Homo sapiens: one gene and its partner. The protein of the gene in region 2 interacts with the protein of the main gene of each other region in a biochemical or structural test. Each region holds a gene or a part of one and is shown on either strand. Other genes may lie near its edges. The genes, in order: CD72 and CD5.

The links.
Region 1: the proteins of CD5 (region 2) and CD72 form a complex in vitro, tested with the Homo sapiens proteins (one study listed by BioGRID).

Annotation. Positions count from the first base shown.
Region 1 is NC_000009.12:35,609,280-35,612,557, forward strand, and holds the end of CD72 (B-cell differentiation antigen CD72), read right to left. Parts: intron 2,641-3,278; coding exon 2,525-2,640; intron 1,475-2,524; coding exon 1,345-1,474; 3' UTR 1,323-1,344; intron 1,022-1,322; coding exon of another isoform or gene 871-1,021; 3' UTR 703-870; downstream 1-702. Other genes in the region: TESK1 (dual specificity testis-specific protein kinase 1), read left to right, coding at 1-463. UniProt on the Homo sapiens protein: Co-receptor of B cell receptor (BCR) that plays both positive and negative roles on B-cell functions. Recognizes the Sm/ribonucleoprotein (RNP) self-antigen ligand, and coligation of CD72 and BCR inhibits BCR signaling.
Region 2 is NC_000011.10:61,122,805-61,126,616, reverse strand, and holds part of CD5 (T-cell surface glycoprotein CD5 isoform 1 precursor), read right to left. Parts: intron 3,711-3,812; coding exon 3,585-3,710; intron 2,734-3,584; coding exon 2,680-2,733; intron 1,586-2,679; coding exon 1,466-1,585; intron 867-1,465; coding exon 778-866; 3' UTR 776-777; intron 330-775; 3' UTR 1-329. UniProt on the Homo sapiens protein: Lymphoid-specific receptor expressed by all T-cells and in a subset of B-cells known as B1a cells. Plays a role in the regulation of TCR and BCR signaling, thymocyte selection, T-cell effector differentiation and immune tolerance.

The DNA of each region.
Region 1 (3,278 bases), on a different chromosome or scaffold from region 2:
CAGCCCTGAGCCGGAACCTCCAGGGCCAGCGCCCCAGCTGCCTCTGGCTGTGGCCACAGACAACTTCATCAGCACCTGTTCCTCGGCCTCCCAACCCTGGTCCCCTAGATCAGGACCCGTCCTCAATAACAATCCCCCAGCTGTGGTGGTGAACTCCCCACAAGGCTGGGCTGGGGAGCCCTGGAACCGGGCCCAGCATAGCCTGCCCCGGGCGGCAGCCCTGGAGCGGACAGAACCCTCGCCACCCCCTTCAGCTCCCCGGGAGCCCGATGAGGGGCTGCCCTGTCCTGGCTGCTGCCTCGGCCCCTTCAGCTTTGGCTTCCTGTCCATGTGCCCCCGCCCCACACCAGCTGTTGCCCGCTACCGCAACCTGAACTGTGAGGCGGGCAGTCTCCTCTGCCACCGAGGGCACCACGCCAAGCCACCCACACCCAGCCTGCAGCTGCCTGGGGCACGCTCTTAGCAGTGGAGCCCGTGGTCTCAGGCCTCCAACTTTGGCCTTCAGGACACCCTGTAAGAACAGAGCACACTTGCTGGACAGTGCCAGTTCCAGATGGGCTGACCGGCTCTTCTCCCCGTGTAGGGGAGCCCCAGCATGGACTCAAGGGACAGAGCACTTCCAGTCGACCCCCCGGCTCGCGTTCCCGTGGGGATCACTGAACCAGACACAGCATTGCTGACACATGAGACTAACACGTGCAATTATTTAAAAAGATTTCAATAAAACTGCCTGGCTGGCTCCGGGCCGCCCCTATCCGCTCAGCCCGTGCGCCCTCCTCCCCCACCCCATTCTACCATGGGAAGTTCTTGGGGGGAGGCCAAAGTCCCTTCTAGAGGTGGCTTCACCCTTTTCCCAGGAACAGTCCAGTTTCAGGAAGAGGGAGCAGGCAGCAGACTGGCTGGAAGTGTCAGGTGTGGGTCAGCCGGTGGCTGGGCACTGCCCAGAATGAAGGAGATGGTCTGAGGAACCCCAGGCCTCAGGTTAGGAAGGAGGGGCACAGGTTCTTGTTGGCATGAGTGTCTGGAAAAGTAAAGTATCAGTGAGCTCCATGGTTGACTTAACTGAACCCTCATCCCACTCACCCCATCTCCTCCTCAGCTCTCGACAGCCACACCACCAGCCTCCCATAAGTTGTAGGCCTTACCTGTCCCTCCCTGCCCACCCCACCCTAACAAGCAGACCAAGCAACTGGAGGCTGTGGAGGAACTTTCATCCCAGGTACAAGTTTTCTCTCGGGCCCCTGGGCCCCTGCTCTGAGTCCCTGCTCTGAGTCCCTCTGCCCCTGGACTCCCCATGCCTCAGCCCCATCCCTCACTCTTACCAACTCAGTGCAAAGGACTGTCCTAATCTGGAAACCTGAAAGCTGTCATCTCACAGATGTAGGGAAGAGAACTTCTACATGACTCTGACTCCAGTGTCCACCATGACCAAGTTTTATGTACCTTGTTACATTTTGAGCTTTGAGCATAAGTCCTAAAAAGTAGTAAGGTAGAGCTGGGATATGCTCTGGACATATCCCACCCTCCCTTCTCTCCCCTTCCCCTGTATAAAACCTAAATCCTAACTCACCCTGCCTGCCTAAGGCCACATCTGGGCATGGTTCAGGACAGATGTCTGGAGTTCAACTAAAACAGACTTTAGAACCAGCAGAGGGAAAAATAACTCGAGATCTTAAAGATGGGAAGGCCAGGCTGGGCACGGTGGCTCATGCCTGCAATCCCAGCACTTTGGGAGGCCAAGGCGGGTGGATCACAAGGTCAGGACATCGAGACCATCCTGACTAACACGGTGAAACCCCGTCTCTACTAAAAATACAAAAAATTAGCCGGGCATGGCGGTGTGCGCCTGTAGTCCCAGCTGCTGGGGAGGCTGAGGCAGGAGAATGGTGTGAACCCCTGAGGCGGAGCTTGCAGTGAGCTGAGATTGCACCACTGCACTCCAGTCTGGGCGACAGAGCGAGACTCCATCTCAAAAAAAAAAAAAAGATGGGAAGGCCAATTGAGGAACATAAGGAGGTTGCCACCCTGTTTCAGGGTCCCTAGGGTTGATCCTCAATGGTACCCCACTGCTGTCTTGATCACAGTGAAGTGGAGCTTCGATGGTACCCCCGCTGCTCCCTTGCGTACTTCACTGAGGCAGCTCTAGTGCCCCAAGTGGCCGCTACTGAGAAAGTACAACCTCAGTTTGGGTGGCCTTCTCGAAGGATGGAGAAACGCTGCTGTCATCAGCTGTGGAGCCTTAACTAAATCCTTAATGTCTCCCCCTAAAAGATAGCGTAGGTCCCAACCTAGTAGTTACTGAAACAAAAAAGTATGTGCCAGGGACTTCTAGGTGGAAATAGAATGGAGAATAAGATTGCCCTAAGAAGTTATTAATCAAATAGAGGAAACAGACAAATAGGCAATTACAGTGTTGATTTATGGGAGAGTCCTGAGGGGACCAGGTGGGAAGGAAATCTGATTACCATGTCTTTATGGAGGGGATTATGGAGTTGAAAATACCCAGAAGTCCTAACAAACTTACCTAGTGCGTTGTGTATCATCAGTCAACTTCCAATCCTTGTTAGAGCTGAGGCCAGTCCAATATGAATTCCCTGAACCACCATTTGGCAACAGTGAATTTAAGAAGTAGTAAGAGTGCTGAGGGGAGATTCAGAGAGACCAGAGATACATGGAGAGTGATGAGAAATATGGAAGAAAATGCACACCCTAGGGAGGCCTCAGCTTTGGCAAGGGGGCTGTATATATGACAGCTCTTTGGTAACTTGTCCCTGAATCCATCAAGTGCCACCCTGCAGATGCAGGCTCACTGCTAAATTTGCCTTCCAGCTGAGTAAGAATCTCTGCCAGCCTTTGGAGGGGAGTCATTCTGTGTGCTGTTCTGGCCCCAAGGAACTAATCCCTACAATCCAGCCCACCAGGTGTGGGACCTCTCTGCCTGAGAGGCCACAAGAGTCCAGGAACCTGTCAAGCAGCCCAGGGAGCTGACCAGCAAGCTGAGATGAGATACACATTAAAGTAGAGGCCGGGCGCAGTGGTTCACACCTATAATCCCAGCACTTTGGGAGACTGAAGCAGGTGGATCACCTGAGGCCAGGAGTTAGAGACCAGCCTGACCAATATGGTGAAACCCCGACTCTATTAAAAATACAAAAATTAGCTGGGCGTGGTGGCATGTGACTGTAGTCCCAGCTACTCAGGAGGCTGAGACGGGAGAATTGCATGAACCCAGGAGGCGGAGGTTGCAGTGAGCTGAGATTATGCAAGTGCACTCCAGC
Region 2 (3,812 bases):
GGAGAAAGCCGATTTCACTGAGACGCCGCTCCCCAGCGGGCAGGGAAAGGGGGCCCCCTTCAGACACCCCCGAGTCTCTAGTTGGAAGGCTGCTTGTTTTGGGGCTCTGCCCACCACAGCTTCCACAAGTGGAGGGGCGGCCGAGCTGTTGTGCAGCAGAGTGTGAGCTGGCCTGCCACTCGGGGCAGCAGCGCCTGTCCGGAAGGCTTCTGGCCTCTGTCCATGTTCTGGCCGGGGTAGAAATAGGGACATGATTTCAAGTGAAGAGCGGACAGTTTTCTCAGGACAAACAGGTCTGGCTCTCGGCTTTTTGCTCATGGATCCCAGTTCTGTGGGGTGAGAAGGAAACGTGTTAGAGGAAGACACCGCAGAGGTGATGCAGGGAGGTCGGGGACAGGACCCATGCTCTGGGCTCCATCTTGGGGACGGCTGCTGTCCTGAGCCAGGGGCTCCTTCTGCCCGCTGGCAGGTTGGCAGCTCTAGAGGGGTGTGACTCCATCACGGAGCTCTTAGGGACTCTGCCTGTGTGGCCTTCCGAATGGAGTTTAAGAGTTGATTGTTAAAGTTCATGATTGCTCTGCTCTAATTGTCAAATCAGCTCGTATAACCTAAACAGCTGACGTTTGTCTTTCCCTTTACAAGAATCAAGATGCTGGGGGTCCCCTATTCATGTATGGGCAGGGTGGGACTGAGGGGAGGCATTGAGTGGCTGCTGCTCACCCCCAGGACTGTGGGGGACCCTGGGGTGCTGGGGTCAGGCTGGAGACGGGCTCACCTTTACAGCCTCTGAGCCCCATGCAGATCATAGTCACTGTCGGAGGAGTTGTCAGGCTGCATGGAGGAGCGATGCAGAGCCCCTTCCAGAGCTGGGGAAAGAAAGGACGCTGTTTGCAGAGGGTTTTTGACTCCACAGAGCCCCTTGGATCCTAGAGCCGCTGCCCACAGTGGGTTGGAAGATCACAGGGGCTTTATGAGCCGGTGACAACCCCTTATCTGTTTTGATCAAATCAGCCAAACGTTCACTAATGATGCTGAACTCCAGGCTCCCTGGGGCTTAATTGGTAGTGCCAGTCTGGGAGCCTTTAGTACAGCGCTCCTGCAGCCCACTTAATGGCTCTCTTCTAGCCCGGAGGAATCCAAGGGGCCTCATTTACCATCCAGGCCCCTCAAGGCCCTGAAGGGAAACAGGCCCATTAGGTCACAGCAAGGCTGGGGTTGATGGCTTTCTGAGTGCATTCTTCTCTCCAGATGAGTAGTTTGTGGTCTCAAACGGGACAGCTGGGGCCTGCAAAGGCTATATCCCTTCCGTACCCCTGCTGCATCCTGCGATGTTTGATCCCCTTGCACCCTGGGGTCTCCATTCTGTCTTTGGGCCATCACCCGACCTTCAAGGGCATCACGTGACCTGCCTTGGCGGCCTGCTGCAGCCCTGCCTGCGTGCCTGGGAGCACCCGCTGGTGCTTACCTGGATAAGCTGACAGGTGGGAGTTCCTGGGAGGTTGGCTGTATTCGTTATCCACGTGGGAGGCTGTGGGGTTCTCAGCATGGGATCGGACGGTTGCCGTGTGGTTGCGATGGAAAGACACTGGGCAGATGGTAGGAGACAGTGTCAGACTTGTGGCTGTGTCCTCCGTCTCCTTCCCCAGCAGGTGCCCAGAACTTTAATCTCCTATTCCCATGATGTTAGCGGGGAGAGGACAAAGGCACCCACAGCCCCTTCAATGCATCCCCCTCTCCTTTCTTCCTGGGAGGTTCATGCTAGCAGGATCAGCAGCAGACTTTTAGAGCAGGTTTGGGTAACCCAGCAATCTGACTGGCAGGGTGGGGCCTTCCGTGAGTCGGTCATCAAGCATTTACCAAGCAGGAGACTGGAGCACAGGTGACGGGACAGATCTGCTCCCTGCCCTCCAGGAGCTGAGGGCCTGTATGTTATTAAGAAAGTTTCCAGAGCCTTTCTTAATAACAAATTCAACAGAGCCCTCTTGAAGGATTTGGCTGTGGACTTGGGAAGGGGGAAGAAGGCAGAATGGGAGGCAGGAAGAGCGCCATGTCTCCATCCATTAGGGTGTCTCTGACTGTGGCTGGAAGGAGGGAGGATGAAGACCAGGGATGGTGTTGGGCTGGCTGCACCAAAATGTCCTAATACTGGCCCTGTAAGTTGTTCCATGATGAAAATAACTTGGACAGCCCTTCTTAATGGATCCTTGCTTTGGAGATGGGCAATACAAAAATGCCCATTAAGGTTCTGATAAGTCCTGAAATAGCTATGCTTAGCTGTGCCTAACTCATGGTTTTCCAGATCTGTTGATCAGGGAGGCCTCTTGTGAGTGCTGCCTGTTAACATCCACTGGCTACTGTGTTGGGGAATACTGCTGGAGGAGGTGAGGGCTGCTGGGGACCCTAGAGATGGGGCGAGGGACAGAAAGGATACCATGAGATGTTTCTACACTCTGAGGCTTCAGCGGTAGAAACCGCTCAGCCATCAGCCCATCAAGAAGCCTCCGCCCTCCCTGGTGTGGGGACGTCTGTTGGCCACAGTCACATGTCAGACAAGCACCGTGGAGATCAGAGGCTTCAAGCAGCCACAGGCTCCGTCTGTGGTCAGCAGAGAGCCTCGACTCTGCCTCCATGGCCTCTGTCCAGGGCCTGAGGGAGGCTCCTGCCTCCGGGGACACTTACTGTTTTGGTTCATTCCCGTTGGGCCAATCCACTGGCGCTGCTTCTTCTGGCGGACTGGGCAAGAGACAAGAAAGGCACATCAGAGTGGTGGGGGCAGGTATGGGTGGGGGCAGGCAGGGGTGGGGATGGGGCTGGGCCTGGGAGGGAGATGGTGGCGGCAGGTGCAGCTGAGGGCAGGGCTGCTGGGCTCTGCCCCCTGGAGTCTCTCGTAGGCCTCAGTTTCCTAACTTGCTCGGGAAGGGAATTGCAGCCATCCTGTGCCGAAGGAGCAGGCCGAGGATGGTGTAGAGGTGCCCGGCTCCCCAGGAGAAAAGACCACAGGCGTTTAGAACTAGACCTGGGCAGGCACTAGGACCTAACACTGTCCTGCTGGGCCCTCTGTTCCCAATCTCTCCCCTCTCACTTCTTTGTCTGAATAATTTCCTCTTAAGTTCTGCAAGGCAAGGAGAACAACCCCCCGCGTTCACAAGGTGTGCGATTGCCCATTTGGTAGATGAAGAAACTGAGGGTCAGAGAGAGGAAGTGTCCCAATCAGCATCTTGGGCAGTGGTAAGTGGTGGGGCTAGGCCTGGGATGTGTGTCTCCTACCATCAGAGGCTGTACTGAACACCCTCTGGGCCTGCCACAGCCTTGGGAATGGCCACACCTTCTCTCTGACCTGGAGTGGGTCTCAGCTGGGCTCCAGAGATGGACAAATCAGCAATTGCAATTTTGTTTACTTTGTGTTTCTGTTACTTGGGGCAGAAAATGGCTAATGGGCAGGAGAGGGGAAGGCTGGGTGGTGAAGCAGAGGTGTCCTGCGTGCCCAGCTCTCTGGAGGCATGACCCCTCCTCCGGAGGACTCTAGTGCAGCCCCTCCAGTCTCTGCACGTGGGAACGGAGCCACTCAGGGCCGTGACACCTACATTTCTTCACTAGCTTCTTGTAGGCAAGGGGGCCGCACACGACCAGCAGCACCACCAGGAGCACCAGGGCCAGGATGATGCTTGCCACCGTGCCTGCGGCCAGGCCTGCGGGGTTTGGATCCTGGCCTGGGGAAGGAGGAAGAGTTAGGTCAGTCCCAGTCCTGGGGGGAGAAAAACTGTGGGAGGGAAGCTGCTGGCTGCCTGGCTTCCGCCGTCATCCTTGCTCAT